Homo sapiens: one gene and its partners. The protein of the gene in region 7 purifies or fractionates together with the protein of the main gene of each other region. This does not show direct contact. Each region holds a gene or a part of one and is shown on either strand. Other genes may lie near its edges. The genes, in order: PCDH7, GINM1, UBE2Q1, NOCT, STK39, FZD3 and CSTL1.

What was found.
Region 1: the proteins of CSTL1 (region 7) and PCDH7 purify together in Homo sapiens (affinity purification with mass spectrometry; one large-scale study listed by BioGRID and IntAct). This does not show direct contact.
Region 2: the proteins of CSTL1 (region 7) and GINM1 purify together in Homo sapiens (affinity purification with mass spectrometry; one large-scale study listed by BioGRID and IntAct). This does not show direct contact.
Region 3: the proteins of CSTL1 (region 7) and UBE2Q1 purify together in Homo sapiens (affinity purification with mass spectrometry; one large-scale study listed by BioGRID and IntAct). This does not show direct contact.
Region 4: the proteins of CSTL1 (region 7) and NOCT purify together in Homo sapiens (affinity purification with mass spectrometry; one large-scale study listed by BioGRID and IntAct). This does not show direct contact.
Region 5: the proteins of CSTL1 (region 7) and STK39 purify together in Homo sapiens (affinity purification with mass spectrometry; one large-scale study listed by BioGRID and IntAct). This does not show direct contact.
Region 6: the proteins of CSTL1 (region 7) and FZD3 purify together in Homo sapiens (affinity purification with mass spectrometry; one large-scale study listed by BioGRID and IntAct). This does not show direct contact.

What each region holds. Positions count from the first base shown.
Region 1 is NC_000004.12:30,726,638-30,730,849, reverse strand, and holds part of PCDH7 (protocadherin-7 isoform d precursor), read right to left. Parts: intron 98-4,212; coding exon of another isoform or gene 62-97; exon of another isoform or gene 1-61.
Region 2 is NC_000006.12:149,576,019-149,580,230, forward strand, and holds part of GINM1 (glycoprotein integral membrane protein 1 precursor), read left to right. Parts: intron 1-2,803; coding exon 2,804-2,955; intron 2,956-3,815; coding exon 3,816-3,972; intron 3,973-4,212.
Region 3 is NC_000001.11:154,551,811-154,556,022, forward strand, and holds part of UBE2Q1 (ubiquitin-conjugating enzyme E2 Q1), read right to left. Parts: intron 4,155-4,212; coding exon 4,050-4,154; intron 3,723-4,049; coding exon 3,618-3,722; intron 3,219-3,617; exon of another isoform or gene 2,976-3,218; coding exon 2,925-2,975; exon of another isoform or gene 2,840-2,924; intron 1,863-2,839; exon of another isoform or gene 1,799-1,862; intron 1,363-1,798; coding exon 1,222-1,362; intron 1,011-1,221; coding exon 926-1,010; intron 655-925; coding exon 594-654; intron 374-593; coding exon 283-373; intron 170-282; coding exon 111-169; intron 10-110; coding exon 1-9. UniProt on the Homo sapiens protein: Catalyzes the covalent attachment of ubiquitin to other proteins. May be involved in hormonal homeostasis in females. Involved in regulation of B4GALT1 cell surface expression, B4GALT1-mediated cell adhesion to laminin and embryoid body formation.
Region 4 is NC_000004.12:139,018,557-139,022,768, forward strand, and holds part of NOCT (nocturnin), read left to right. Parts: intron 1-4,212. UniProt on the Homo sapiens protein: Phosphatase which catalyzes the conversion of NADP(+) to NAD(+) and of NADPH to NADH. Shows a small preference for NADPH over NADP(+). Represses translation and promotes degradation of target mRNA molecules.
Region 5 is NC_000002.12:168,160,015-168,164,226, forward strand, and holds part of STK39 (STE20/SPS1-related proline-alanine-rich protein kinase), read right to left. Parts: intron 3,867-4,212; coding exon 3,725-3,866; intron 3,719-3,724; exon of another isoform or gene 3,708-3,718; coding exon of another isoform or gene 3,628-3,707; intron 1,829-3,627; coding exon 1,773-1,828; intron 1-1,772. UniProt on the Homo sapiens protein: Effector serine/threonine-protein kinase component of the WNK-SPAK/OSR1 kinase cascade, which is involved in various processes, such as ion transport, response to hypertonic stress and blood pressure.
Region 6 is NC_000008.11:28,570,156-28,574,367, forward strand, and holds the end of FZD3 (frizzled-3 isoform 1 precursor), read left to right. Parts: 3' UTR 1-4,103; downstream 4,104-4,212. UniProt on the Homo sapiens protein: Receptor for Wnt proteins.
Region 7 is NC_000020.11:23,442,311-23,445,768, reverse strand, and holds the end of CSTL1 (cystatin-like 1 precursor), read right to left. Parts: intron 1,836-3,458; coding exon 1,725-1,835; intron 999-1,724; coding exon 891-998; 3' UTR 839-890; downstream 1-838.

The DNA of each region.
Region 1 (4,212 bases), on a different chromosome or scaffold from region 7:
TTTCGGAGTAGAAAGGTCATCACAGTATGGTGCATAATGGAGCATCATATTAGAGTGGAATTCAGCCAAACACAGTAATGTATGGATGTAGACGCATCTGAAAGAAGGAAAATAAAGATTTATGCAGGTAAAAAAAAATCGATAAAGAAATTTTCCCCAGTGTCTTATGCCCAATTGGAAAGCTTTAGTAGAGATTTCGGAGCTAAGAAAAATTTTAATGCCAACTTTGTGTTTGTAAATAATAAATACACTTGGGGGGTGGGGGAAGTTAACTTGTCAGAGGAATCCTACCTGGGAGCTTTAATAGCTTTTTGTTTGTACACAGCATTAGAGTTCAATACAAACATCACTACATTCCTGAAAATAAACCTTGATTCCGCCTTTAAAACATTAATTCACCAGAAGTGATAATTAAGATTAGTTTTAGTGGTTTCAGCTCAATTCTTCTTAGAATGTGATTTTTCCCACAACACTAATGCTAAATAAAGCACAGTGTAATGTACCGCAAAAGAGTCACTGCTTTAGAAAAGATTCTATGGGTTTTTTTAAAAAAACTAAGAAAAGCAAAGCTTACTCTAGATATATGGGAACAGCTCTTACTATTTCTATAGAGTCATAGTAAATAAATGAATGGGAAACCTTGCCATAGTCTAGAAATCGATTATACACTCTTTATACATGACTATTCTAAACAAAGTCATGTTATATATTTAAAGTTATATATATATTTAAAATACTGTATATAATTATACTAAATCTCCTACATAATCTCCACCACCACATCCTCCCAGGAAAGAAAAGATGTTAAAATGTTTAATAGAGTAGATTGCTGTGTTGAAGTAATGGCTTTGTCACACTATATTTAGTTTTTAAAATAGTTCAGATTTTATTTTTAAAATTAATAGATTCAATAATTTATATTTTATCACTGTGCAAATTTAGAATCTAGTACACTAGATTGGTTAACTGCCTAACAAGGAAGCAATCCAATTGAAAGTTAACAAAATGTCATATTCTTCTAAAAACTTGCTAGAAAACAAATTAAGAGAAAACATTCGTGCATGACTGTGTGTTAAGGATGCTACTAAAATAAAATGTATGTGCAAAGTTGATAAAATGCACACAAGCCCAGAAGTCAAAAGTAATTATCAATATTGATGAAAAAGGTAAAAGATTATCACAATTAGAATGCATAAAAAGTTTCATACATAATGTGTAGAATGTTTTAATTCTTTTCTATTTAAATGAATTTTTATTGAAATATACTAATTGCTAGGAAGGAACTTATGTCTGTTATCATTGTTCTGCTAATATTAAAAATTCTGTCAACAGAATATATGTTCTTAACCATGTTAAGATGCTTTACTCTATGTTATCAATTACAATCCTACATGAGGGAAAAGAATTATTAACTTCTTTAAAATTCTGTAAATTTTGAATTATATTTTCCCAGATAATTTTACACAGAAGAACTGGAGCCTAAAGCAGAATTATAGTCTATTGTAAAGATGTCAATCTTCATAGCCAAATATATAGTCATAAATAAGTAAGTAAATTTCAACAGATTTCTACTGCAATTGAAATACACACACAGAAAGTTACAGAAATTCAGTTTTTTTCCCCCAAAGGTAGTATGATCAGATAAATAAGAATACTGGACACTACATTCCATAACTTGGACTCTAGTCCACATTATATCCCTGACAATTTTGTAATCCCAATCAAGTCACTGTTTCATGCTGGGCCTCAGTCTCCTCTTCTATTAAAATGAGGGGACTGTTTGACACCTTGTAATTCTAAAATGTGATGATGCTAGTGATTTCATGTACAGTCATTAAGCTGTTGATTATAGTATATTTTATTTCAACATTGTGTATGTTTAAGCTTAGATATTTTTCACATATTAATCTATAAACATCATGACTAAATAAAAGACTAATACAGCTATAAATGGTATACACTAATATGTGTGTATATGTCTCTGTGTGTACAGAGTTTGTGATATAAACCATGTTCACACTTTTTCACATACGAGATATGTAATTACTCAAAGATAGAAGGATAAGAAAAAATGATTTTGCCATATTTATTGTACTAGATGGCTCATTAAAATATTTAAACTGACTTTGTGGTCTTACATCTAAGTCATTAATTGGTTTAGGATAAGTTTTGGATAAGATTCAAATAATCATGTGGACTTCCATATAAATTTGCAAATTCATTGCGGATCAAATCAATGGATGACCTTTTCCTTATTTCATAGACATCCAGAGATCCAGATAGTGTTGCTTTACTAGATGACTAAAGACACAGCCTAACTTCCATCAGCTATTAGTGTTTTGCCTATGGTATCAGGCCAAATGTAACGGAAATTACAACATATGCAGATTCATTGTGCCTTATGAAAACATCCTTGGTTATAGACAGGAGAAAAACATTGTAAAAATTATGCTTACAGAATGAGCACTGGAAGCTATGGTTGGCATCACTATGTAGATGCATTTCCACTAAAGAATATATATATATGCTCTCTCTCTCTCTCTCTCTCTCTCTATATATATATATATATATACATATGTATGTATACACACACACACACACACAAATGAATTGACATTTAGTTTTCTTATTGCTTAATAGATGACAGCAAGTCAACCATTTGCTTCCAAAATTGAAGCAATTAAAAAATTCTCCCAAATTTTTTCACTAGGTATACAATGAATATATTGAACATAATTCGATCACTAAAGAGAACATTATGAAGACAAACTGAAACTGTCACTGAAGTTAATGTAAATTTTTTGTATTTCAGGATCAGCTGCAAGTGGATTTTAAAATGGATGTTTATTCAAACTAAGCTCTTGCCAAAAATAAATTACCTTACTTTCCATTTACTAAATACAATAAAATTTTTACTTGTAAGTGCATTATCTAAATAACAGCCTATCAAGGATAAGCTCAATAGAATTCAAGAATAATAAGCAAAATAGTAACTGTACTTTTCATACTATCACTCTTTGGGGGGATTACATTATTTTAAAAGAAAATTGAAAAATGCTTAGCACATAGTAAAATACCAGAGACTTAAAAATAAACAGAAAAATAGAATGCGTATGCCTTTATGTTATGAATGAAAAACACAGTTGTACTTCTAGTTCACAAAAGTTTAACAACTACCAAGACCAGGTTTACCAAGGAAGAATGAAACAGAAAGGTGGATACTTAATCTCAATCATGCTGTCAATGATCCACATTTTGCTCAGCTAAACACATTATTTAGCTGAGAGCAAAGGCTTTTGTTTGAAATGCAAAGGTATGAACTATGAAAATTTGGGCTACATCATCAGTGAGTTTTTCTAAAGTGTGAATTTCGGAAATAATTCCAGCAACTCTACCACACACATTTCCTAGAGTCTGCCATAGAAGCTTGATTTGAATGGCTCTCAAGTCTATGTAAACAAAACAAAAAGTAAGCAGTTAAGGGAGAGTATTATTTACAAACTTTCATTTCTACAAAGCTGTTTAACCTATTATAATGAAAACAACAGGACTTAGGTTCAACACTTTAAAATGTCTAATTTTCATGAAGATAAGAACACTCTTAAGAAACATCACTTTAATTTTTTCACAAATAAATAACTGCAATAAGGCAATTCAGGAAAACTATAAATAAAATGAATGTAAAATGAAATCTCAATTTTTAAATTAGACCCTGCTGTATGGAATTGAAAGAATACAACAGTCTAGTTTTACCTTAGATAAATCCATTTATCAAAAGAAGGAAATTCCCGCGAAACCCTGAATTCTCTTTTTTTCTTTTATAACATCAGGTTTAATCAAAGAAAATATATTTTGGCAGTTCTGTAAAAATTAAAGGTCATATATTTTAAAAATAAAAATAGGAAATTGTCTACTTATGGCACAAACAAAAAGCAGAACAAAAAGGATCCCATTTATGTCAGATGTCAAAACGGAATGTAACTTTGTAAATGGATCCCTTGTCCCCTGACAGCAATATTGAGGAGATGAAACATATCAATTACTATTACTAATTACATTAAGGGGAATGTGTTTCATCTGCCTTTATTTCATTTTAGGTCAGCTATTTACTTGGGGTTAAAAGTGTATACTTCTTTTGAATATGTAATGACAGAAAAGTTTTCCAAAGTCACTTTTGGCAAACTGTGTGATTCATTCCAATTGCTTTGAGGG
Region 2 (4,212 bases), on a different chromosome or scaffold from region 7:
TATTGCTGCATAACAGTTTAACCCAGAAATCAGTGGCCTAAGACAATATTTATTATTTCATAGTTTCTGTAGGTCGAGAATCTGAGCTTGGCTTAGCAGGGTCCTGTGGTTCTCAAAAGGCTGCCATCACGTCAGGGCTCAGCTGGGAAAAATCTGCTTCCCAGCTCACTCATGTGGTTGTTGGCAGGAGTCAGTTCCTTCTGAGCTCTTGAACTGAGGCCTCAGTTCCTCACCAGATGTTGGTTGAAGGTCTTCCTCAGTTCCTTGTCACACGAAGCTCCCCATAGAGCATCTCACAACATGGCAACTAGCTTCATCGAGAGGACAAGAGAGACTGCCAGTAAGAAAAAGAGTACTAGCAAGACAGAAGTCATAGCCATTAATAATCTAATTGTGGCAGTAACATTCCATCACTTGGGCTATGCTCTGTTTGTTAGAAACGAGTCACTAGGCTGTGTGCATTGGCTCATGCCTGTAATCCCAGCTATTTGGGAGGCTAAGGCTGGAGGATCACTTGAGGCCAGGAGTTCAAGACCAGCCTAGGCAAGATAGCAAGGCTGTCTCTTTCAAAAGAACAAAAAAAGAAAAAAAAATCATTCATAGATCGATAGATAGATAGGTAACTAACTGACTAGTCACTAGGTCCAGCCCACTTGAGGGAGGAATTGCAGAAATGTCTGACTCCTTAGAGGCAAGGGTCATTGAGGGGCATTTTTGAAAGCCGCCTACCACAGTAAGGAAGTCAATATGAAGGGCTTTGTTGTTTTTTATTTAATTTTATGCTGTATTAGAGGTACTGTATGAGGCTCTTCTCACATTGCTATAAAGAAATACCTGAGACTGGGTAATTTATAAAGAAAAGAGGTTTAATTGGCTCATGGTTCTGCAGGCTGTACAGGAAGCATGGCACCAGCATCTGCTCAGCTTCTAAGGAGGCGTCAGGAAGCTTTTACTCATGGTGGAAGGCAAAGGGGGAGCCAGTATCTCACATGGCAGAGCAGGAGCAAGAGAGAGCAAGAGTGGCAGTGGGGTGCCGTAACCCCAAGCCATGAGGGATCTGCCCCCATGGCCCAAACATCTCCCACCAGGCCCCGCCTCCAACATTGGGAATTACATCTCAACATGAGATTTGCGGGGAACATCCAAACTATATCAGGTACCAAATTTGCAGGCTGAAGAATTGCCACTTGGGTGTATTTTTATGACTGCATTTTCTCACCCATTGAGTCTCCTGTACCTTAGTCTTTGGGCTTACGGACATGCTGACACAGCGCCTGCTGTTCCACGAAGGAGACCCACGGGTGGTAATGGTCAGTTAAAACACGGGGATGGACCATGAGAGAGGGGGTACCTTTGACAGTGGTGCTTTTCAAAGGGCATGAAGGATTAGGCACACTAGAGAGAGGAGCAGCGAGGGGCCAGATGAGGAGCCTGAGGAGGACCAGTGAGAGGACCGGGAACTTCACAGAAGTGCCACTAAAGGTGTGTGAGCAGGAGGCTGTGGACTGAAAACCACGTCACAGTGAGACGAGCTTGGCATGTTGTCTGAATGGTTTGGCGGCGGGGACTAAAGCAGGGGAGAATAGGTAGGTATATCTTGTAATAGTAAGTAGTTAATGAACTAGATATTGAGATATTCCAGACAAAGGAAGTAGCCCTATAGATGCACAGAATCAGACTAAACAGCTGGGTGTGCATTCAGATTGTATATCTGGATTCCTGTTTGGCAAAAATCTTCAGATTATTTGAGGGATAGAAATAAAATGCTCCATCTGTGACAGGTGCATTGGTGTATGTTGTTTTATCTTTTTCGATAGCACTTCTACCTTAATAGAGTAGCCGTTGGCTCTGTAAACCAGCTGCAGCTACTACACCCCGTTTCTACTGGAGCAGGAGTAGAGGTTTCCTAGCTAGAGAAGAACGTGGACAATAGCTAGTCCTACCCCATTATCGATTACCAGAGAGAAATGACAGGCCTCCCCCACCCTCTTTCCCCATTCCTGCTCTCTCTAATAGTAATGAGTCACTAATCGGGGAAAGGATTGATTAAAAAACTCAATGTTCTTACTGCTTGGGCATCTTCTCTCACAGGATTTTGTGGATGGATGAATGTATGTGCTTATTATGTTAAAACGTGGGATTGGCTGTATCTTCTGGCTGGCTTTATAGTTGTGCCATGTTGGTTCCTCATGGCCAACCTGTATAAAAGAATAGGAAAGATGGGCCAGGCGTGGTCGTTCACGCCTGTAATCCCAGCACTTTGGGCAGCCAAGGTGGGTGAATCACTTGAGGTCAGGAGTTAGCAAGACCAGCCCGGCCAATATGGTGAAACCCTATCTCTGCTAAAAATACAAAAAAACAGCTGAGCATGGTGGTGCAAGCCTGTAAACCCAGCTACTTGGGAGGCTGAGGCAGGAGAATCCCTTGAACCCAGGAGGCAAAGGTTGCAGTGAGCCAAGGTGGCACCACTGCACTCCAGCCTGGGCGACAGAGCAAGACTCCATCTCAAAAAAAAAAAAAAAAAAAAAAGAATAGGAAAGATGTTGCTAGTGTGGTATTTCATACAAAGTCTAAAGATCAACACATTTTACCCTTTCAAATGAGTGTAAGCAGTCATAAAGATTTGTCAGATTGTCTTTGTTTTTAATAAATCTGAAACAGCATTGAGGTCAGGGATGAAGAAAGCCAAAGAAATGGGTTTTCAACTGTCTTGTTCCATGTAAATGTCATCAAAATAATCACACTCACTCACAGATTTGGTGGTAATCTTTGTTCAAAGGTGTCACTACTTTTTTTTTTATAGTGAAGAATGAAAATCTTGAAAATTTGGAGGAAAAAGAATATTTTGGAATTGTCAGTGTAAGGATTTTAGTTCATGAGTGGCCTATGACATCTGGTTCCAGTTTGCAACTAATTGTCATTCAAGAAGAGGTAGTAGAGATTGATGGAAAACAAGTAAGATAGTATGTTTATTAATTGGGAATTAAATGATATTTAGATTTGTGCTAGATATTATGCATGTGTTCAGTTATTTTATTTGTTTCCGACTTGATAAGGAAGGTGCCTAATGTTGCCTATATCCAATTATTTAGAATTTTTGTATATTTATTTTAGCATTTGAAATGTATTTTTAAAATTTCCCATATTCATACATGTTTGTATCACTTTAAAATGTACAGACATTATTAAATAGAAAGTAAGCAAAGAGATTCAATTTGGCTCATAGTTCTGCTACCATTTCCTCTATGGTAAATGAAGTCTCTGTGTGTAAATGAAGTAGAATCGAGATTAAGCTTATAATAGTAAGTGTTAAAGCAGGACAGGAATATTATTAAAGTTGCAAGTTAAGTGCCCCAAAGTGGGAGTACGGGGAAATAAATAGTAATTGTTAGCTGGGCATGGTGGCTCACACCTGTAATCCCAGCACTTTGGGAGGCCAAGGTGGACGAATCACCTGAGGTCAGGAGTTCTAGACCAGCCTGACCAACATGGAGAAACTCCTTGTCTCTACTAAAAATACAAAGTTAGCTGGGCATGGTGGCGCATGCCTGTAATCCTAGCTACTCGGGAGGCTGAGGCAGGAGAATCGCTTGAACCCAGAAGGCGGAGGTTGCGGCAAGCTGAGATCGCACCATTGCACTCCAGCCTGGGCAACAACAAGAGCGAAACTCCATCTCAAAAAAAAAAAAAAAGAGTAATTGTCTGAATAGGACACATGTTTTAGTTATATAAATCTGGGAGGAAAATTTGCTTTTAAATTTTTATGGGGCTGTGCTACTATTTAAAATAAAGAATAATTATATTTTCTTTCACAGGTTCAGCAAAAGGATGTCACTGAAATTGATATTTTAGTTAAGAACCGGGGAGTACTCAGACATTCAAACTATACCCTCCCTTTGGAAGAAAGCATGCTCTACTCTATTTCTCGAGACAGTGACATTTTATTTACCCTTCCTAACCTCTCCAAAAAAGGTAACTTAAAAGACCATTATTTAAAGTATTAAGGAGATTATTTATTTAGTTGGTAGCTTTATATACTCTTGAACTTTGTTATTTTTTACACTATTTGCAAAAGTTGCTATTTATCTTTAATAGTTAATATGTTTGGAAATGAGCTTGTTTAAAAAAATGCTTCATAACATGTATTGCTTCATATGTCCATTTAAGGACTTTAGGACTCTATTTGGAGCATTAGTAGAATGTGATCAGTGC
Region 3 (4,212 bases), on a different chromosome or scaffold from region 7:
AGAACATACCTGCATGAGAAAGGTTAGTCAGCTGTGCCTGACAAAATCTCCAAGTCTCTTCCCCGCCCTCTGCCAGAGGAGATGCCCTCTTCCGCATGCCAGCCACTCACCCTCCAGAGAGGACTGGAGACACAACCCTGACAAATGGTGGGTCAAAGGGAAAGTTATCCTGAGAGAGAGAGAGACGACAATCAGGGGAGGGAGGCCAGCATCCTCCACAGGACTGTCAGGCAGACTGGGCAGCCTAGGCCAGAGGGAGAGACTGGAAAAGAAAAGTCTTACTTTAAAGGAAAAGTTAAGTAGAATGAAGTCGGCTCCTTCTTTCTCTTTGAGGATCTGGAGATCGTTGTGCAAAGCGCTGTCCTGGTCAACTCTAAGAAGCAACAAGCCTGGGCTCAGATGCCTGGTTCCACCTCAGGAGCTTCATAAGGGCTCCCCTGCCCTGGCTGGCAGCAGACCACGAAACCACTGCCCACACCCGCTCCGGGACCCTGAATGAAAATGCTGGATGGGGCTGCCCTGGAGATCCCACCACAGTAGCCCCACTCACACTCCTCCTCAACTTCCTCTCCAATCCCAGAGTCCCCACTCACTTGAGGAGTTTGACATTCCAATCATACAGACTGTCATTCACGAGTTCGACTGCATAGTTTCCTGGAAGGAGGGAAAAAACAGGTGTTAGTAGAATGGTCCAGGTGGTGAGTGGTCTCTAATGCAGACCCCTTTCCCAGACTGAGAGAAAAAGATCAACAGCTCTAGGTTCACCACAGATGGACATGCAACCAAGCCACTGGCTTGAGGAGCTCCATTCTTGGCCTGAAAAGTTCATAAGCACTCCTGGACCCCAGAACCTCTTGGGCCCCTTGCCACCATACCCTTCTTTATGGGTGACTCTTGTGCAGGCCCCTCTCTGGGGCAAACTCACCGCCTTTGAAACTCTGTGATCGGTATATATCCCTGAGCTCCTTCATCAGCCGGTCAGTGGCCTGCACCGAGCCAGACACTGCACCCTGTGAGGGACGGATGACAGGAACATTCCTTGGTCGTGTGGTTTATAAACACACGTTAGACCTTAGGGGCAGTCTGGCAGCTTGCCCAGGATTTAAGAAAGGATTAGGCACAAAAAAGGAGTCTGCTCTCCATACTGAGATGCGATGGCCTACTACTTCCCAGCCATTTCCCACCAACCCCTTCACCAGCCTCTCTCTAGAAGGCACGTACATTTAAGTAATCTTGCCTCTGGTTCTTTTTAATTTTCTCTAGGATGGCCAAGTTTTCTTTTCCAATGCCATCATCTTCAGATTTCTTGCCCTCAGCTGGCTCTTCCTCTTTCATTTCATAGTGATCTAAGTCTTCTGTGTCCTGGAGGAGGTGTGGGGTGGGAGTGAAAAGAAAAGGAAAAAAACCGACACAGGTTAGAGAATGACCATCACCTTCCCAGTCCCATTTGGCGAAGAGCCAAAAGTTAAAGTGAAGCAGTCCATCTAGCAGTCTTATAAACGCAACGTGCTTTCCATTTTTAGAACAATTTCCAGCCCCATTCCCTCCACAGTCTAAATCTTCAGCTCTCAAGCTACAGCAAGGACTTCGGAAACGAGCAGAGCTGCAGCTGAGATCGAGGCAGGGACTTAGCCCTCTTGTTTCCTGGACTGACCCTGCTCCAACTGTTCCTAAAACTCCCTTGGCAGCAGAAACTCTTCCCTAATTCCTAGCAGAAATGACTTGGGCCTGACCCTGTGACTCAAAGCTCATGTTTCACCAGGTGACTATTGCACCCGGGAGTTCTCAGGGCCCCAAGCCTAAAGGAGAAACCTGAATCATTACATCTCCTCTCCTCGCTACAAATGCAAGGCATGAATCAGGTATGCAGAGGCACGCACTGCCAGATGGAAATGAGAAAGGATGTCCAGAGAGATATATGGAAGAGGTCAAGAACAGAATTAGCCCCTTATTCATCCTGCTCTAAGTGAGCAAGCAACTAGCTCACTGAGCATAGGGAAGGAGGAGAACCTATGTAGGGTTGAGCCCCTCAGCCAGATGTTGGGGGTGTGGCCCAGAGGGCTGTCCACTATCTGGGAGGAGTAAATTTCATGTCGTCAGCCCTTTGCCAGTCTCAAGAACCTTACACGGTTATAGAACCTGGGATATTAATCTAATGCTAGGAAATAAAAGTAATCAGAGTGATCTCCCCATTTCTGGCAGGACATACCTAATTACCACACCAGCAGGTAATGTCTACTGAGTGTTTATTACATGCCAGGTTCTGTCCTAGGTGCCGCAGATACTAGCTCATTTCATTCTTACCACCATCACTCATTATTCTATCATTATCCATTTTATAGATGCGGAAGCTGAGTCTAGTGAGGTCAATTATCATGCCCAAAGTCACAGCTCTTAGCAGAGCTAAGATTCAGTCAAGTTCTGTCTAGCTCTAAAGCTCAAATTCCTAACCATGATTTTATATTCTGTATGTTTTTAGAGAATATATCAGATAGATTGTTTAGCATTTATCATGTATCATCTGAAGCATTTTATATATAACACCTCATTTAATCTCAAGACAACCATATGCAGTAGGTATTATAATCCTACTTTATAGATAAGAAAACTGTAGCTTAGTGAGATTACATAAAATTCCTCAATTAGGATAGCTAGGATGCAAACACAGGTTTGTTGGACTCCAAAGCCATTTGAAATTAACTTACCCAGTATTTGGTTTGAACCGCGCTGCACCTGTCTTCAGTGGTTGGATATGGGTGCCCTGTCTCCTCTACTACACTGGCTATTCCTCCAGGTCAGTAAATCTGTCTTTATTCCTTTGATATTTTTCTCTCTCCAGTTTTAGACTGGAGTTCTGGATATGGGTACCAATGTTGCTGACTGCAAGAGCTTCCAGCCAATGCCACCTCAGGGGGCAAGCCTACCTCAGGCATCTCCTCATCTTCATCTTCTGAAGACACGTCTTCCTGTGTGCACTGCAGCAAGGAAGGGAAAGATGGAGATCAGAGCCCCAGTGGCTTGCTAGAATGCAGCCTCCAACCTACTCCCCTGAGCCCCCAGGTCTGGAAGTTGTGCGCCTGCCTGTAATGCTGCCAGTCTCTCCACCAGCCAGATCTGAGTGGAAGCAACAGCCCAGGGAATGGCTTTGCTACCAGCCCATTATTTTTCGCCTATCACTGCCAAAGAATAAAAGAAAAGCAAAATGGCTGTCTCTGTCACCCACCTCCTAAATCCTAGTTTAATTCTCCTAAGAACCCCTCCTTTACTTGATCTTCTTTAGACTGATATTGCATTCTTGGTTCTCACCAAGGGGCCTGGGTCCCCAGTGGCCACCAACTGTTATTGCTAAGATAATGGTAAAAATTCCCCCGCTCCCTTTCAACATCTGGGATGCTGCCCATGAGAATGAATTTTGATATCAGAGATGAAGCTACCAGTGCCCCATTTAGCAAAAGAAGATTCCCATCTGGAGAAGAACGAGGGTGAGAGTCATAAGACGTGTATGTTTTTGGGAGCCGGTGGGGATGGAGAGAAACTACTGATTTGTCTCAATTATTTACTGAGTACCCTGTGGGGCAACTCTGCACAACAGGGCCCGAGGCTCCTCAGCTGCTCACCTGCTCTGCTGGCAAGGGTTGATCCAGCATCTCCACATCTGGATGCTGAGGGAGGTTATAGAGTTTACACAGGTCGGAGATGATCCTCTTCAGATGCTGCAATAGCTACAGGTAGGGGAGCACAGAGACATCAAATCCTTCCCCACTCCGATCTGGATAAGTGCATGGATGAGCTCTTAGTTTGGGCCCCACACCAATAACTAGTTCTCTAAGCCTTATGGGCCACGTGGCTGTGGGAATGAGTCTCCTGATGGACCAATCCCAGGGCCGATGCAGGGTCTCCCTCTGGCTTCAGTAAGCAACTCCCCCGAGAGGTCATCCCCTAAATGTTTAGCTGTGTACCGTCCACTTTTCAGGATCCCTTTCACAGGATGCCTTTGTGGCATGGGCCTCATAAGAACAAAATGTACCCCTACCCTGTGGCCCCCTCACCAGAGTATTCCCTTTCTTTATGTCCACCAGCCTCTCCAAGACAGCAGCCAAGTTAGGGTCATCAGACTCCACCGACCAGATGGGGGGCACAGCAGGGTATGACTCCTGAAGGGAAAAGAGCAATAAGAGCAATCAAAATGGGTGACTCTGGGAAAAGCCAGAT
Region 4 (4,212 bases), on a different chromosome or scaffold from region 7:
ATTTTTAGCTTCAGCAGCTTGTTGGAAGAAACATGCCTGCATTGATTCATTCATTGCTTGTTCACTCATTCCAGATCTTTACAGAATGTCTCACACAATGTAGGTGCTTTATTATGGGAGTTAAAAACATGAGCTTTAGTCAGTCCCTAAGGAGTTTACTGCCCAGTAAGAGATGAGATTTGCACAATGAAATGGCTGTTTAATGAAATGAAACACCTTTTATTCTCTTGACTTGGAAATGGCACAAGGGTGCAGGAAAGCAGGAAGTCCCTTTTGGGCTTCTAGAAATGGGTGGCATTTCAGCTGGCTCTTGAAGCATGGTTAGGATTGGAAGAGATTACTATAAAGCGTTTTGTTTGGAAAAAGCAGGAGTAAATGCAGAAAGGCATGAGACACACACAGATGAGGAAGGGTGAGAGAAGAGGCACTTTGCAAAAATGGACATTGTTTTCCAAAGAGCCTCAGACCCAGCACTAAGTGCTTTTTAATTTTAATTTTTATTTTTATTTTTTTTGAGACAAGGTTCTCTCGCACTGTTGCCCAGGATGGAGTGTAGTGGCGCCACCTCTGCTCACTGCAACCTCCACCTCCCAGGCTCAAGCAGTTCTCCTGTCTCAGCCTCCTGAGCAGCTGTGACTACAGGCACACGCCACTGTGCCGGGCTAATTTTTGTATTTAGTAGAGACAGGATTTCAACGTGTTGCCCGGGCTCGTCTCAAACTCCCCAGCTCTGGTGATCCACCTGCTTTGGCCTTCCAAAGTGCTGGGATTACAGGTGTGAGCCACTGCGCCCAGCCTATGAAGTGCTTTTTTAAAATGCAGATTCTTGGATCCTACTGTAGACCTATTAAGTCTGAGTCATTCATGATGGGCCCTGGATTCCACATAACCAAATGAAATGACAAAAAGAATAACTCCAGATTGTTCTTCTATGCCCTCAAATTTGGACATCTGGCACCCATATGTGAGAGAGACATTGAAGGGGCCAAAAGCTCCTCTCCACTCCTGAGCCTTGTGGTGGGGAGTAGTGAGTCCCGACAGCTGTCCACATTTGCTAATCAGTTCCTGCATAACTTATGCCCCTTGGCAATTGGTAGTTATTGGGAAGATAAGTACAGTCCCTTTGGAGTTATCAGATTCCAGGTTGTTAGAATTAAAAGGTGACCCTAGGGATGATCTCGGTGTTTGGCTTTCTTTTCTCAAGGATAGCAGCCCCCCTAAGAAGTAGCAGTTGCCACAGTTACTGTACTGGATGAAACGCAGTTGGAAGTCATCTGTGGATTTATAAATGCTATCCTCCACATCCCTCCTCCTCAGAGAATGAAGAGCTGGCTGAACTACTGTTCTCTACCATTAGAACATTTGCTTTTTTTCATGGTACAATTTATAGGCAAATGCCACCAGCTCATTTGAGAAGGCAGCTTTATTTAATATGTCCTTTAACTATGTGAGTAAACTGCTTATGAGAGAGAAGAAACGGGAAAGCTTGTCATTATCAAGCTGCTATGGAATAAATTGCTTTCCTTGTGGGAAAACTAATGTATGATTTTTCTGTTAGCATTCAATGGCAACAGTTTAAACATGGTGAACTGGGGTTCTTTGGGGTTAATAACCATGGCTCCAGATTCACATTCCACACACTTAACATTTGTAAATCATTTAACCTTGCTTGCTGTCTCAACACTAGACTTTACCTAGAACAAATGAATAAGATCAATTGATAGCAATTTATCCACAAGCTTTATTGAATAGTACATGTAAAAGGTGACATGACTAATTGCAGTGGGAGTTGAGAAGAAAGAAATCAGTGTGGCTGAATTTGTCAAGAAATGCTTTGCTTCTAATAGGTGAAAAAGGAGGGTGTTTTGGAAGGGGACAGTTTGCGGGGTGGTGGGGGCAGGCAGAGAAGACCACACACACAATGCCTGGAAGAAGGTGGCGCTCGCATGCAGGAGCTGTGGCAAGCATCTTAGGAAAAGGGGTAGAGGCAGAATCATTTGGGACAGTTGTTAAAATGCAGATTTCTGGCCTTTCAGCCCTCTGCTTGATCAGTTTCCTGTGGAGAAGCCCGGTGGAGTGCATATTTAACAAGTGCCTCAGGGGATTCTTCCAAAAAGATTAGGGAGTATTTATGAGCTCTGCCCCTCCTTTCCCCAAAGGTACTTATTCCTGGAAAGCTTGAGAAGCTCTGGAGAGGATTCTGGAAGAGCCTTAAGACCTTTGGTCTGGCCGGGCACAGTGGTTCACGCCTGTAATCCCAGCACTTTGGGAGGCCGAGGTGCGGATCACTTGAACTGAGGCATTCAAGACCAGCCTGGGCAACATGGTGAAACCCTGTCTCTACTTACATTAGAAAAAAAATAGCCAAGTGTGGTGGTGCACACCTGTACATCCCAGCTGCTTCGGAAACTGAGGCAGGAGAATCACTTGAACCCAGGAGGCGGAGGTATCAGTGAGCCGAGATTGCGCCATTGCACTCCAGCCTGGGCGACAGTAGGAGCAATACTCTGTCTCAAAAAAAAAAAAAAAAAAAGGATCTTTGAGCTTGGGGCCTAAGGCAGTTCAAGAGACCCCTGAGAAAGAACATTGACCCCCGAAAAAAGCAGCTTTAAAAAATTGTATATTTTGTCGAGACGGGTTTTGCCGTGTTGCCCAGGCTGGTCTCGAAATCCTGGGCTCAAGCAATCCTCCCGCCTCAGCCATCCAAAAGTGCTGAGATTACAGGCATGAGCCATCACGCCCCGCCAAAAGCAGCTTTTAAGAAAGGGAAGAAATTCCAGGGCCGGGCACAGTGGCTCAAGCCTGTAATCCCAGCACTTTGGGAGGCCAAGGCAGGCGGATCACCTGAGGTCGGGAGTTCGAGACCAGCCTGACCAACATGGAGAAACCCCATTTCTACTAAAAATACAAAATGAGCTGGGCGTGGTGGCACGCACCTGTAATCCCAGCTACTCTCAAAGAAAAAAAAAAGGGAAGAAATTTGCATATTAATGAAAGTTCAGTGAGAGGAAACTTGAGACTGAGGTTGTAATGGGAGTGTATCCATGTAGTCACTCTAAGTCACAACTTAGAGTAAAATGAGGTTTCTATGATGTTTACTAAAAGAAAAGTGAGGTAATTGTGTTCTGGCTTCTTGGAGTTAGGAAGGGAGATACAGCGTCTGTATTTGCTGTCAGGAGTCACTGGTGACTAATTACAGTTTTTCTGGTTTTTTTTTTTTTTAGACAGTTTTGCTCTTGTTGCCCAGGCTGGAGTGCAGTGGCGCAATCTTGGCTCACTGCAACCTGTGCCTCCCGGGTTCAAGCAATTCTCCTGCCTCAGCCTCCCAAGTAGCTGGGACTACAGGCATGCGCCACCATGCCCGGCTAATTTTTTTGTATTTAGTAGAGACAGGGTTTCACCATGTTGGTCAGGCTCCTCTCGAACTCCTGACCTCAGGTGATACACCCGCCTTGGCCTCCCAGAGTGCTGGGATTACAGGTGTGAGCCACCACGCCCGGCCACTAATTAGAGTTTATAGGGCTTTGATAGCCACTTAAGTGGTGGTTATACTTCAGTAGATAATTAGAAATTTGAAGGACAGTGTGCCTGGGCGTTTAGCCTCATAGTAAACCTGTTTGGACTTCCACGGAAAGCAGCTAAGATACTTTTTATTTATTGTTATTCTTAGAATGGGAGAAAATCAGCCTTCCCACGGAGGGAGTGAGACCTCAAGTGAAAACCTTAGCTGTCCTCTGTATCTATGTGGCCTCAAAGCAACACTTGAATCATATATTAATACTTAGCAAGAATTCAGTGTCAGGTATGTGGGCAACAGTGCCCAGGGGAAAGAAGGCTAAACAAAATTGGTACCATCCAATTTGAATGTCCTTATAACAATTTTTTTCTCCTTCCAGTATATAAAAAAATGCGTGGGTCCCATTCAGATCTTCTGGATTTTAATATCTCCAAGTGGGGCCTGAGCATCTGCTGATTCTGACATAGGCTCCGGGTAGACAACAGCCACATATTGACAACACAGGCGGACACCTGTGAGGAGGCTCGTTTTACTAAATGCTTAGAAGCCTATTCTAAGTCTCTCAGTGATGTGATTCTCCTGTCCAAAAGTTAGAGACCACTGTTGGATTGTGGAGAGTTGTGCAGAAAGGAAAATATTTATTTTATTTATTGTAGAGACAGGGTCTCACTGTGTTGCCCAGGCTGCTCTTGAGC
Region 5 (4,212 bases), on a different chromosome or scaffold from region 7:
AAGCCAGGAAATCTTACCTCGGGGATTCTTACTGGGAAAAAGAAAAGGACAATGTGTTCCAGAAGGCTCAGGGAGAGGCTCGGATCATTAATCTGACAAGAATAATGGGATGAGATGACTGGCAGAGGACCAAGTAACAGAATAAGGCAGGGGCTGACCAGCCTTCACATTTCAAAGGCAGTTCACTGCTATTTTGACCCTTTTAGTGAGAAATCATCATTTCATCATAAAACAGAAAATTAGTTGTACTTCCTTATCATCTTAGAGCAAGATTAATGGCAAGTTAGCTTCCAAATTCCATAATTAATAAGTATTACCTTTTGATAAGTCATAAACTCTCCTCAGAGCTGAAGCTCTTGCAGGACAATTTGAGGGTCACATGATCTCCAGTCAGTGCAAGGGAGTATCACTGTGATCCTGTTAGTCGTAGTAACAGAAGTAATAGTAGTAATAGTAGCAACAGCAGTAGCAGCAGCAGCCATGGTAGAACAGCAGTTATTGATATTTACTGCTTGCCTATTATGTGTTGGCCACTGTTAAGATCACTGGACCTTGATTTCATGAAAGAAGATGAAGTAGTTTATATTTTTACCCTTCTTTAAGGAAACTGAGTCTTAAGAAGGTTTGGTAACTTGCCCAAGGTGGTACAGCTACTAAGTGGTGGCCTCAGAATTTCGATCAAGTCAGCTGACACCAGAGCCTGCACTCTGAACAACTAGACTGCTTGGGGCTGGACAGTTTGAAATCTTTGCCCACAGATGTCTCTTAGCTGTTACTTGTTTAACTGAAGTACTTTTTCAAACTGTCCTTAGCCTATGGGATAAGGTCCACTCATGAGGACAAGATATGCACACACAAAGCACTAACTCAGATGGCTCAACAACAAAATCCAGCCTCCACGATGAGGAGAGGCACCAGAGTCGGGGGGTGGGGGTGGGGGGCAGCAGATGAATCAAGAATTGCCAAAGATTGATAATTATTGAAACTAGGTGATGGGTACAAGTGGGCTCATCTTACGCGTCTCTGCAATGACAGGGTCACTCCAGTAGAGGGAATGACTGTCTAGCCAAAAAATGCCAAGAACACTCCCCCAAGAAACCATGAAAGCTAAAAGGATTGCTGAGACAGACTTTCAACGACATGGGTAAAGCAAGAGTTAATATGGGCGTGGCTACATCTTATCCCAGGCCTTTAAGGTTACTCTAGGGCCAATAACAAAATAGAGGCTTTGAACACGAAAGGTGCTCACCTGATATTGTGTGTTCATGTAAAAGACATTCATTGCATCCCCAGCCTACCAGCTTTGTCAAGAATAGCCATGTTGGGTCAGAGTTAAAAACAAAATAAGGCCCAGATTTTTAATGTTCACAATTCTTTCAGATACCTCTTAAGAAATAAATTAGTTTTTAATTGATGTGTATGATGTTTTAAATTTTCAAACCTATCGAAAAATGTTTTTACAAGTGCATTTCTTGAAGTTATATGAGTATTACCATTATAAAATGTGAAAGGTAGAAAACATAATAAAATTGAAAATAAAATTATTCTTTATCAAAAAGCTATGTACTAAAATGGCATTTTTCACAGGATGATCTAATGACTTATCAAAACAATAAGGAAAATATGTTATCCTTCGGACCCAAACATTCTGTAAATATCATTCTGAAAAGAGATTACATGCATTTATTCATTTCTCAGGAATGATTCTACATTCCTTGAAACTGTAACACTTCCGTAATCAAGTAAAAAATTTTTCTATTTATCAGCTTTACCTGCTATTTGTACTGAACCATCCTCACCCAGAAGAATATTACCAGCTTTCAAATCCCTATTAGAAAAAAAAATAGAAAATAAATTGTAGGGTACAGACTTTATAGTGTATTGATTCACTCAGGAAGATTTTAAAACATATCATACAACGCAGCTCTTTGACATAATAATTTCATAAATATTAAGATAATAGCACAGATTTTAAAAGTTATAAGGATAGGCTGGGCACAGTGGCTCACGCCTGTAATCCCAGCACTTTGGGAGGCCAAGGTGGGTGGAGCACCTGAGGTCAGGAGTTCGAGACCAGCCTGGAAAAAATGGTGAAACCCCATCTCTACTAAAAATATAAAAATTAGTTGGGCATGGTGGCAGGTGCCTGTAATCCCAGCTACTTGGGAGGCTGAGGCAGAAGAATCACTTGAACCTGGGAGGTGGAGGCTGCAGTGAGCCAACACCGTGCCACTGCACTCCAGCCTGGGCAACAAGAGTGAAACTTGGTCTCAAAAAAAAAAAAAAAAAAAAAAAAAAGGTATAAGGATCCACCTGTCACTTTATAGTTTACTCGTGGGGGAGAGTTAGGATTTTAGAAAGAAATATTTTCTATGAAATAATTATCCAAATTTAATTAAATCATCAGTAAATAGACTCTCTATTTTATGCTTCAGAGTTAGACACTGCCCATAAACTCACACTACTGTCATTCTACCAAGTATTAAAGCCCAGTCTATGTAAAGCTCCTCTACTTCCACTTAAATTTGGGATGCAATTCCAACTTAATTATCTTTCTGAAAAATGAACTTCTCTCTGGTGAGAGACTGATTATAAATACTAATTATAATAATAGATATTATATTTCTTCACCGTATAAAACCTGTGTAATCTTAGTACTTTGAAAAATGACAACTTGCAATTTATAAATTTGATTTCTAAAGTAACTTTTTTCTAATTATTGAAAAATATAGGCCAGCCACAGTGGCTCACGCCTGTAATCCTAGCACTTTGGGAGGCTAAGGTGGGCAGATCATCTGGGATCAAGAGTGTCAGTCCAGCCTGGCCAACATGGTGAACCCCATCTCTACTAAAAATACAAAAATTAGCCAGGCATGGTGCCGCATGCCTGTAATCCCAGCTACTCGGGAGGCTGAGACAGGAGAATTGCTTGAACTCGGGAGGCAGAGGTTGCAGTGAGCTGAGATCACACCATTGCACTCCAGCCTGGGCAACAGAGCAAGACTCTGTCTCAAAAAAAAAAAGAAAAAGAAAAATATAGTAGAAATAATTAAATATAAATTTCAGGGTAGGAGAATTACATTATTAGTATTACTGGTAAATGGCTATTTACTTGCAATAATTCCTAAGAGCCCAAGTAGCACTCACTCACTTGAAACATCAAGCACTCATATTCTATGTGATTTGACTATGTAAAGAATTAACATTTTATGTCACAAAAGAAGATGAGTACCTCTTCCTTCCCTCTCACCACCACATCAAAAATAATTCACATAGTACAATGTTTGGATAGTCTTGCTTGTATTAGAAAGATAGAGATGCTGTCTAGTTCAACTAGTATAATTCAAGAGTAGTTACCAAAACTGATCTTTTTAAATGAGTCCATGTAGTCCTTTTTAGATTCCACTCTTATTTCAGTGAAAGCAACTGAAGCAATCCCAAGGATACCAATATAATTCATCAAAATTTATTCTCTTGTTTCTTTCTTAAGTACTTTTTTCCCATCTATTTAGACTAAGTTAAAGTAATGTCAATACCTGCCTGCAACATGTGTTTCCTTAACATTCTTTACAAACTAGGGCTGAAGATATGAACATCTGAATTTAAACATCTCTGCAGAGGTCACACCTGTGAATCTGACCGTTTCTGTGTAGACAGTCTAAGCCTTCCAAAACCTCTTTAAGATATGAACATCTGAATTTAAACATCTCTGCAGAGGTCATACCTGTGAATCTGACCGTTTCTGTGTAGATAGTCTAAGCCTTCCAAAACCTCTTTAAGAATTGTTGCTATTATTGCCTCTTCCAGAACTCCATTCTTGTGTTCTCCTCGGTTGACAATGTATTTTATGATATCCAACATTGAACCTAAGTAGACAAACAGAAGAATTAAAACATAAGCACCTTCATCACCTTTTCAGAACAAGACTCCATTATGTATAAAATTTAATAGAAACATCAAAATATGGGCTTTATTTAATGCAAATATTCCCAAGGCAAACAAACAATTGAATGGGGGCCCCATGACCAAAAACACTAAATCCAAGTTTGCAAGAGCACTTTCAGTGTGAATTTAACGAGAAGGATTCTGGGTCAGGGACCAGAAGGCTGTTCATGGCCGTTCCATGGCTGGTTCCTTTTCTGGTTACAGTATTTCTCACAAAAATTCCTAAGAGCAACCCTCCAAAGAGGGTGCAAAAAGTCTGAACTGACA
Region 6 (4,212 bases), on a different chromosome or scaffold from region 7:
AAAATGTTTCTGGAAAAATTCCTTAATTGTCATCTGATATAATGTAGAGATTGAGGCCAGACGCAGTGGCTCACGCCTGTAATCCCAGCACTTTGGGAGGCCAAGGTGGGCAGATCACCTGAGGTCAGGAGTTCGAGACCAGCCTGATGAACATGGCAAATCCCCTTCTGTACTAAAAATACAAAAATTAGCCAGGCGCAGTGGCTCACGCCTGTAATCCCAACACTTTGGGAGGCCGAGGCGGGCGGATCACGAGGTCAGGAGATCAAGACCGTCCTGGCTAACATGGTGAGACCCTGTCTCTACTAAAAACAAAAAAATTAGTTGGGCATGGTGGCGGGCACCTGTAGTCCCAGCCACTCGGGAGGCTGAGGCAGGAGAATGGCGTGAACCCGGGAGGCGGAGCTTGCAGTGAGCTGAGATCGCACCGCTGCACTCCAGCCTGGGCAACGGAGCGAGACTCTATCTCAAAAAAAAAAAAAGAAAAAAAAAAAAGTAGAGATTGCATTAGTTCCATATCTCCGCAGAGTTCTCTGGTAGATTAAATGTTCTCTGTGCACTAGGCCAAGGAAGTTCCTGTTACCTTTGAAAATCATTGTGTTTGCTCTGATTGTCTACATTAGCTCATATCAGTCTTTTGAACACTGGTTCAAATCTGGGTGTTGGGTTAGGATCTGATGAGTAGAGAATAGTGGAAAGTTGATATAGGAAGGTATACTGGTTTCTGGTGTGATTCTTTAGCTACATTTATTCCTTGTCTTATGTCATTTCACTGGATCATGTAACTGTCCTGGCTTTCAGAAATTATATTAGATGCCCAGCCTTTCTCATTCAGAGATGCCTGTATTATTATGTTATTTCGATTGCCTACCAAAAAAAAAAAAAAAAGAAAAGGTTTGTTTTTAGTTCTCTGCCTCTGCAAGTCTTTGTGATCACATTTGTTAAATTGAATCTGAGATTCAAATATTTCATTTAATATTTTCTGGGTTTTGATAATGGGATATTCTGTAAGATAAAGCAAGTAATCCTAGAGTGATTTACTTTATGTTTAGCCATCCACCATTTTCCTATTTCTCTACTCCTCCCATTCTCCATTTTTAAAAGGAAATTAACAAATGTCTTCCTTTATCCCTGCCTCAGATAATTTTTCCCTGAACTCATCTTGTCAGCAGAAACATTTAATGTGAAATAATTCTGTATTTCTGAGACAAGATCAACACAGTAGTTCTTTACATTGAGCTGAGGTGAATGTATACTTAAAAATACTCTATTTTCTTTTTATATGAACTTAAAATTTTTAAAATCATATATGGGACTCCCCAATGTGAAAATATTAGTCTGGACATTCTCTTGCCATCAGGTGCTATTTCTACCTTAGCTGTGAGTTAGACTAAATCCAAATTTCGTATCATTCATCTTTTTATAATATTTAACTTCCCTAGAATCACCCCATTTCATGTCTTTAACCCCAACTTCCAACAACTTTTCTGCTTTTATTTTCAAATGTCAAATTGTATTTTTGTGTTTTATTTTCTCATTGAAGTGTAAAAGTATCACATATATGAAGGAATGGCTGGTTTAGACATTTACTTTGGCATAGTAAAGATTGATATTGATACCACCCACCATCCTTTCCTCTAGCCCCAGAAAGAAAAGTTTGACAACTCAAAAACGATTAAATTATCTTATCTTGTTATTTAATAGAACAATGGAAGCTGTTTCGTCAAAATTAAAATACTTTACCAAAAAAATACTTTTTTGTATTTTAATCTGATAGTGAATTTGGGGATTATTTATGTAAATGTATCATAATTAATAGTAATTATGAGTTATTTCACTCTCTGTAATTTGTGATACCCAAGATTCATATTTATTTAATGTGAGGTGTTTTTTGAGGCTTTTTTGTTTTATCTTGTTTTCTTAACTTTTTACAGTGTTGTTAGATTATCGCGGTCATCTCGGCATGTGGATCGCTCCTCCTGTAGATCAGCTGTTCTCTCTTAGAGTCAGGACAAGGAGGTTTTTGCTACATGGTCGTAGTTGGATAATACAGCATTATTCTGAACTATCTGAAATTGCTGGTTTTATTGGTCAAAAATGATCAGATGCTAGCAATTTCATAATAGATATATTCAAGAAGGAACCAAACTTTAAAAGATCTTTTAGAATAGGTATGTTAACTTCTCATCCTAACCCTATCAATATATCAGAGGCTTTATGAAGGAGACTCTACAGATAACCACAAATCTTATCAAGAAAATTCTCCTTAAAAAAAGTTATCCTTTATTTTGTTGTTAAATTTCCCAGTTTTTAAAAGTGTTTTATCAAAATGACTTCATAATTGAAGCAAATACCTTTTGGAAGTATATATGTTACATAAGACTTTCACTAAATCTGTGCGTAAAGCTTTTATAATCTGAGATATTGTTATGTATTAGGTTTGTGCAAACCTAATATAAAAGGGTTCATCTGTAAGTATCATTTAGAGGCAAAATAATTTCCCCCTCACATCTAATGTGGACTCAAATTTTGGCAACTGGAATGTTATCCTCTTGGTAGGCATTCTAAATTAATGAATACTGCTATGTGGTGTAGTAAACAAATTTGCCATAAAATGCCATTTAAGGATTTTCTTTTTACCTTTATTTCATTATAAAAGTATATGAGTTGAAGATCATATAAAAAATATGAAACTCCTACACAGGAAATCCCCAATTTTGTGATTTAATAGGTTGTAAAAAGAGTTGTTCCAAATTCAGACTACATCTCATCATATAAATAATATTATGAATAATAAGGGTAAAAGATTAGCCAACAAAAGCTAATCTAGTACACCCCATAGAGGTACTCCAGGTGTCTTGGTTTTGGATAAATTTTTATAGTGGAGAAAGGTTACTTTGATCTCTCAATAATTGCTTGGTACACTTCTTCCTAGGCAATATGCTCATGATACCCTCTTCATGTGACCTATTCCTCAAATGCTGCATTCTCCAAAACTTCCTTACCTGCCTTCTATCCCCTAGTCATTCTTATCAATACTTCCAAAATATAACCTATCTCAAGTGTTAGAAATTTGCTTTAACTAATTTATATTAAAGTGTTAGTGACTATAGCCCTTTTATCTCTCTTAAAGAGAAATCTGCATTAAAAGCAAACACATTGCTGTTAGCTCAAATTAATGTCAGTGAGTAGAATCTTAAGCTTTAAAACAAAAGTGGAAATAATTTAAATTAGTGTTGATGGGACTATTTTGAGGCAAGAGATACCATTAAGTGACCTAGCTTGGAAATCTGCCCCCTTTGCCCAAACCCATGTGATGTCTGAAACTACTGTATATTTTCAATGACCTTGAGAAAGGGAGCTAGTCATTTGTATTTATGGGCCTTATGAAGTCAGGGCCTGCTGATCCTGTTTTTTAAGTTCAAGCGCAATGCCTGAAGCATCCTAGATCTCCTTCACCCTCATTCTACCTGACAGACAGCTAGGTCTGTCTTCCAGCTCTTTCTCATTGATACTACCTTTACATATGAATACTATCCATGCTTGTTAAAAAAAAAAAAAGTCTTTCCCCATTTTACTGTTACAATTTTTCAAGAGCTATAAAGGTAGAAAAAGTATTCCTTTTCATTATTCTAAAAAATATGTCATTTTTAAATAGCTGGCACTTAGCAGTTTAGTTTTCCAAACTTTATTCTGAATCAAATTGCTGAGGTGATTCTAAATGTCTAATGTTGATTTATCATATAAACATCTAATTAGAAAGTGTTTATGCTAAAGACTTGTATTTTGTGGCATTAGTTCTTCATGTTTCTTTTTTATATGTTTATTAAAATTGTTCACTTCCAAATGAGTGGAAAAGTTGCTGTTGTTGGGATGTACAGGGCAAGTGCACTTGGTTAGAGCATGAACTGGGAATTTCACATTCTCTGATGTGCTTTGCACTCTGCTCTTGTAGATTTATTTTGTTTACAGTAGACTGATGTCAGTTTTTGTAAATGTTTTTTCTTAGCACTTTAACTGTGAGTGTACAAACTGATTTTAAATGTAGTGGTTGTATATTTTGGTTATAAATTGGAGATTTTTAATAAAATTAAATAATTCTCTTTTCTGTCATTAGTACCTGATTAATTATAATTTTCTTTGTCATCTTCCAGACCCTTTAAACAGTCTATTTAACACTACTGCACTGCATTTTTAAATGTTTTCATATTG
Region 7 (3,458 bases):
ATTTGGTATTGGGAATCTCAGACACACTCACAAAAATGTGTGTGAGTCACAGTGTTGTGTGTGTGCTGGGAAGAAATAGGGCTCCCCACACTAGGGTCAGAGCTCAGGGACATGCTAAATTCAGAAAAGCCATAGAGATGTGGGGTGGCGTAGAAAGAATGATGAGGTTTCCCCAATGATTATGAACATTCTGTTCTAATTGCATCAGCTGGGTGGGTGCGGTAGCTCACGCCTATAATCCCAACACTTTGGGAGACTGAGGCAGGAGGATTACTTGAGCCCAGGAGTCCATGACCAGCCTAGGCAAGAAAGGGAGATATTGTCTCCACAAAAAAAGTGTTTTAAAAAATTAGCTGGACAAAGCGGTGTGCACCTGTAATCTCAGCTACTTGGGAGGCTAAGGTGAAAGAATCACTTGAGCCCGGGGAAGTCAAGGCTTCAGTGAGCTCCACTTTAGCGGAGGCTTCAGTGATTGCGCCACTTCTCTCCAGCCTGGGCAACAGAGCAAGACTGTGTCTCAAAAAAAAAAAAAAAAAAGAAAGAAAGAAAGGAAAAGAAAGAAAAGATTGCACCAACCCCTGAAGACCACTGAATGTGTGTGCGAGTGAGTGTGCATGTGCTTGACATGTAGGAGTGAGTGGGTGGGCGGGTGGATGAGTGTGTGAGGCTGTTAAAGTGAATGTGCATGTATGTGAGTGGTGAGAGTGTGAGGGTGTCGTGAGTATGAGCATTGTGTGTGTGGGTTGTGAAGGTAAGTATGTGCAAGTGTGTGTACGTGTACACTCTGTGTGTGCATGTGTGTGTGTGCATGTGTAATAAGACCCCAATGAGGGAGACATGATCCTTTACAGTTTAATAACAGCCAGTGCACAACTCAATCATATGAGCCCTCATCTGAGGTTTCTGCCCACATGCTCGGCCTCCAGACAGGAATTGTTCCAGAGCTGGAAATAGTTTATCCAGGGCATGGTGTATATCAAAGACTCGCAAATTAAACTCTGTAGAAGAAGAAAGAAAACAGACTTTGGGGGAAGTATTTTTCAAAGGCAAGCAACAGGCACCTGTTCCCCAGGTCTCTCCCTGTGGCTGCTCATGAACCCCATGGGCAGAGAGGGGAGCTGCCCACAGTCAAGGGTAGAAACAGAAAGGAGTGCCAGTCTGGAACAGGAATGTCACCCTGTCTTCCCCCTACCCAGCCACTTGGGACCCACAGCAGGTGAACCTGGAGTCTATGGCCTGGCCGGACCCTGTCATGTGGGCCAGGCAGGCCAGCAAGGAGCAATAGCATCGTTACCTCCTCCTGCACCTCCCCAGGCATGGGGGAGCCCCTTGTATCTGCCAGCTTTCAAGGGGTGCCACTCATGGACCAGGAAAAATAGAAGGGAACAAGGAGGAAATTGGACAACCTTAGAGACCTGGAGAGGGAGAAAGAAGACAGAAGAAGGACCCCAAGGAAAGGGAACCACTGCTTTCACGCAGAGGGTCTGGGGAGCAGGCCAGGTTGGAGAAGGGTCCAGGCAACCAGAGGCCTGGGTGCAGGGCTGTACCAGCCCAAATATAAAGCCTCCCTCCTTCACCCAGGTGCCTCAGGAGGTGCCAGACAGCCCCAGGGCTGGGCCCCAGCTGGCCCCAATCCACACAAGTGGCAAAACTGCCAACTTCTAGCTGTTGCTTTTTAAAATATTCACTTCACAAGTCCCTTTGGGATGACTTCCACTACACACCTTTCTCAGCTTCTTGCTTTGCAGGGGGCAGGAAGAATTGCTCGTGTCATTCCTCTTGCATTTGGTCCAGCCAATCTTCACAGTGACTATATACTCCACTCCCGTCGTCAGCTGCCGAGAATCAGTTGTGCTGTTAGTGTGGACTCCAAGCATCCAGTGGCTGACCCTCTCCTGGAGAAGCTAGGACTGAGAGTAAAGCTCCCAGGGCCACAGTTCTTGTTCGCGGAGCTTACCCACCAAAAGCATGGCTCCCTTCTCCTTACTTCTGGCTGGAGGGAGGGCAATGGCAGCCAAAGCCCCTGGTCATAGGTTGGTTTTGCTGCAGCAGCCACAGAAAGCTTCTCACCTGCCTCTGTTCCATCCTCAGGACAGAAGAGGCAACATCAAGCTGGGTTGCCTGGCCACCACAGGCCACTCCCAGGCTGGCAGATGTGGCCTTCAAAATGCAACAGAGCCAGCATCTTGTCCCCACCCCCCCAGTCCCTTCTGCCATTTCCTCTGTCTCTACTATCCTTCCTGACCAACCTAGTGGAAGGCAGCTTAGCAATACAGTTAAAAACAGTTTTGGAATCGAATTGATTTGGGGCATGCATTTTCCATTTAGTGACTGTGACCTTGAGCAAGTTACTTAGCATCCTCAGCTTTTTCACTTACAAACTACAAACCACAATTGTGCCTGCTTCTGGAGTTGTTATGTGGGCTAAATGGAAGCTTGCATTTCCCTGAATGCATAAAATAAATTTTAAATATTTTCATAATTATAAGTTATTACATCTTTTAGCAAAGTGTCTGCAGTGTTACTTTGAAGCAGATTCAGTGTTAGGAGAGTGACAGAACACAAAATCTGGCTTTACCCCCTGCAGACTCTGTAAATTTTACTGAATCTCAGTTTCCTCATCTAGGAAATGAGGAGAATAATGCCAGTTTCCTCCTAGCGTGTACAGAAATGAAGGAAGGAGGCATGGTGGGTACACGAGCCATGGAGAACGCATGCCAGGGATTTCCCCATGGCTCTTTCACTTGTGATCAAGTGTGAGGCCATGAAGCCTGCAGGGGTTGGAGCCTGGAAAAGCCCTTGTGGGCAGGGAGGCCCTACGCCCAGAAGGGAGACTAACAGAGAGCTTGGGGGTTACGGTTCCCTGTCGGGTTCTGAGCTGGATTCCTGAGTAGATATGTGGATTAGTGGATCTTCACCGGTGCAGGAGAAGCTCTGGGAAGCTCCCTGTTGCCTTGCCCTGTCACTGGTCAAGCCCAGTGAGAGGGCTTGGTCATCTCTGGGGTGGTGACTGAGGCAGAGAGTGCCCACACTGCTCCTGGGAGGAAGACACCCTTAGCAAACACTGGGACAGGGCAGCAGGGAGCCTAGACCTGAGGGCAGTACCAGCCTCCCCGCACCCAAACATGTGGGGGCCATCCATGCATGGGCATTTGCAGGGCTGCCCCAGGCACGGTCACACTGACTTTCAGCATGCTCAGAATGTAAGAAAAAACTAAACCACCCGTCATCACTGTAACTGACATTCCAGTGTGCAAAGTGTTATTCGTTATTAGACTTATTTGTTCGATAATGACAGGAGTAGTCATAATAACAGCAAAGATTTTTTATAAGTGCTACCAGATGTTGGCACTGTGCTAAGTGCTTCCCTCCTATTCTGAGGCACTTTGCAGGTGAAGAAACTGAGGTCTGGAGAGTCTGGATGTCACTTGACCAGGAGCCTCAGTTGGGAGGAGCTG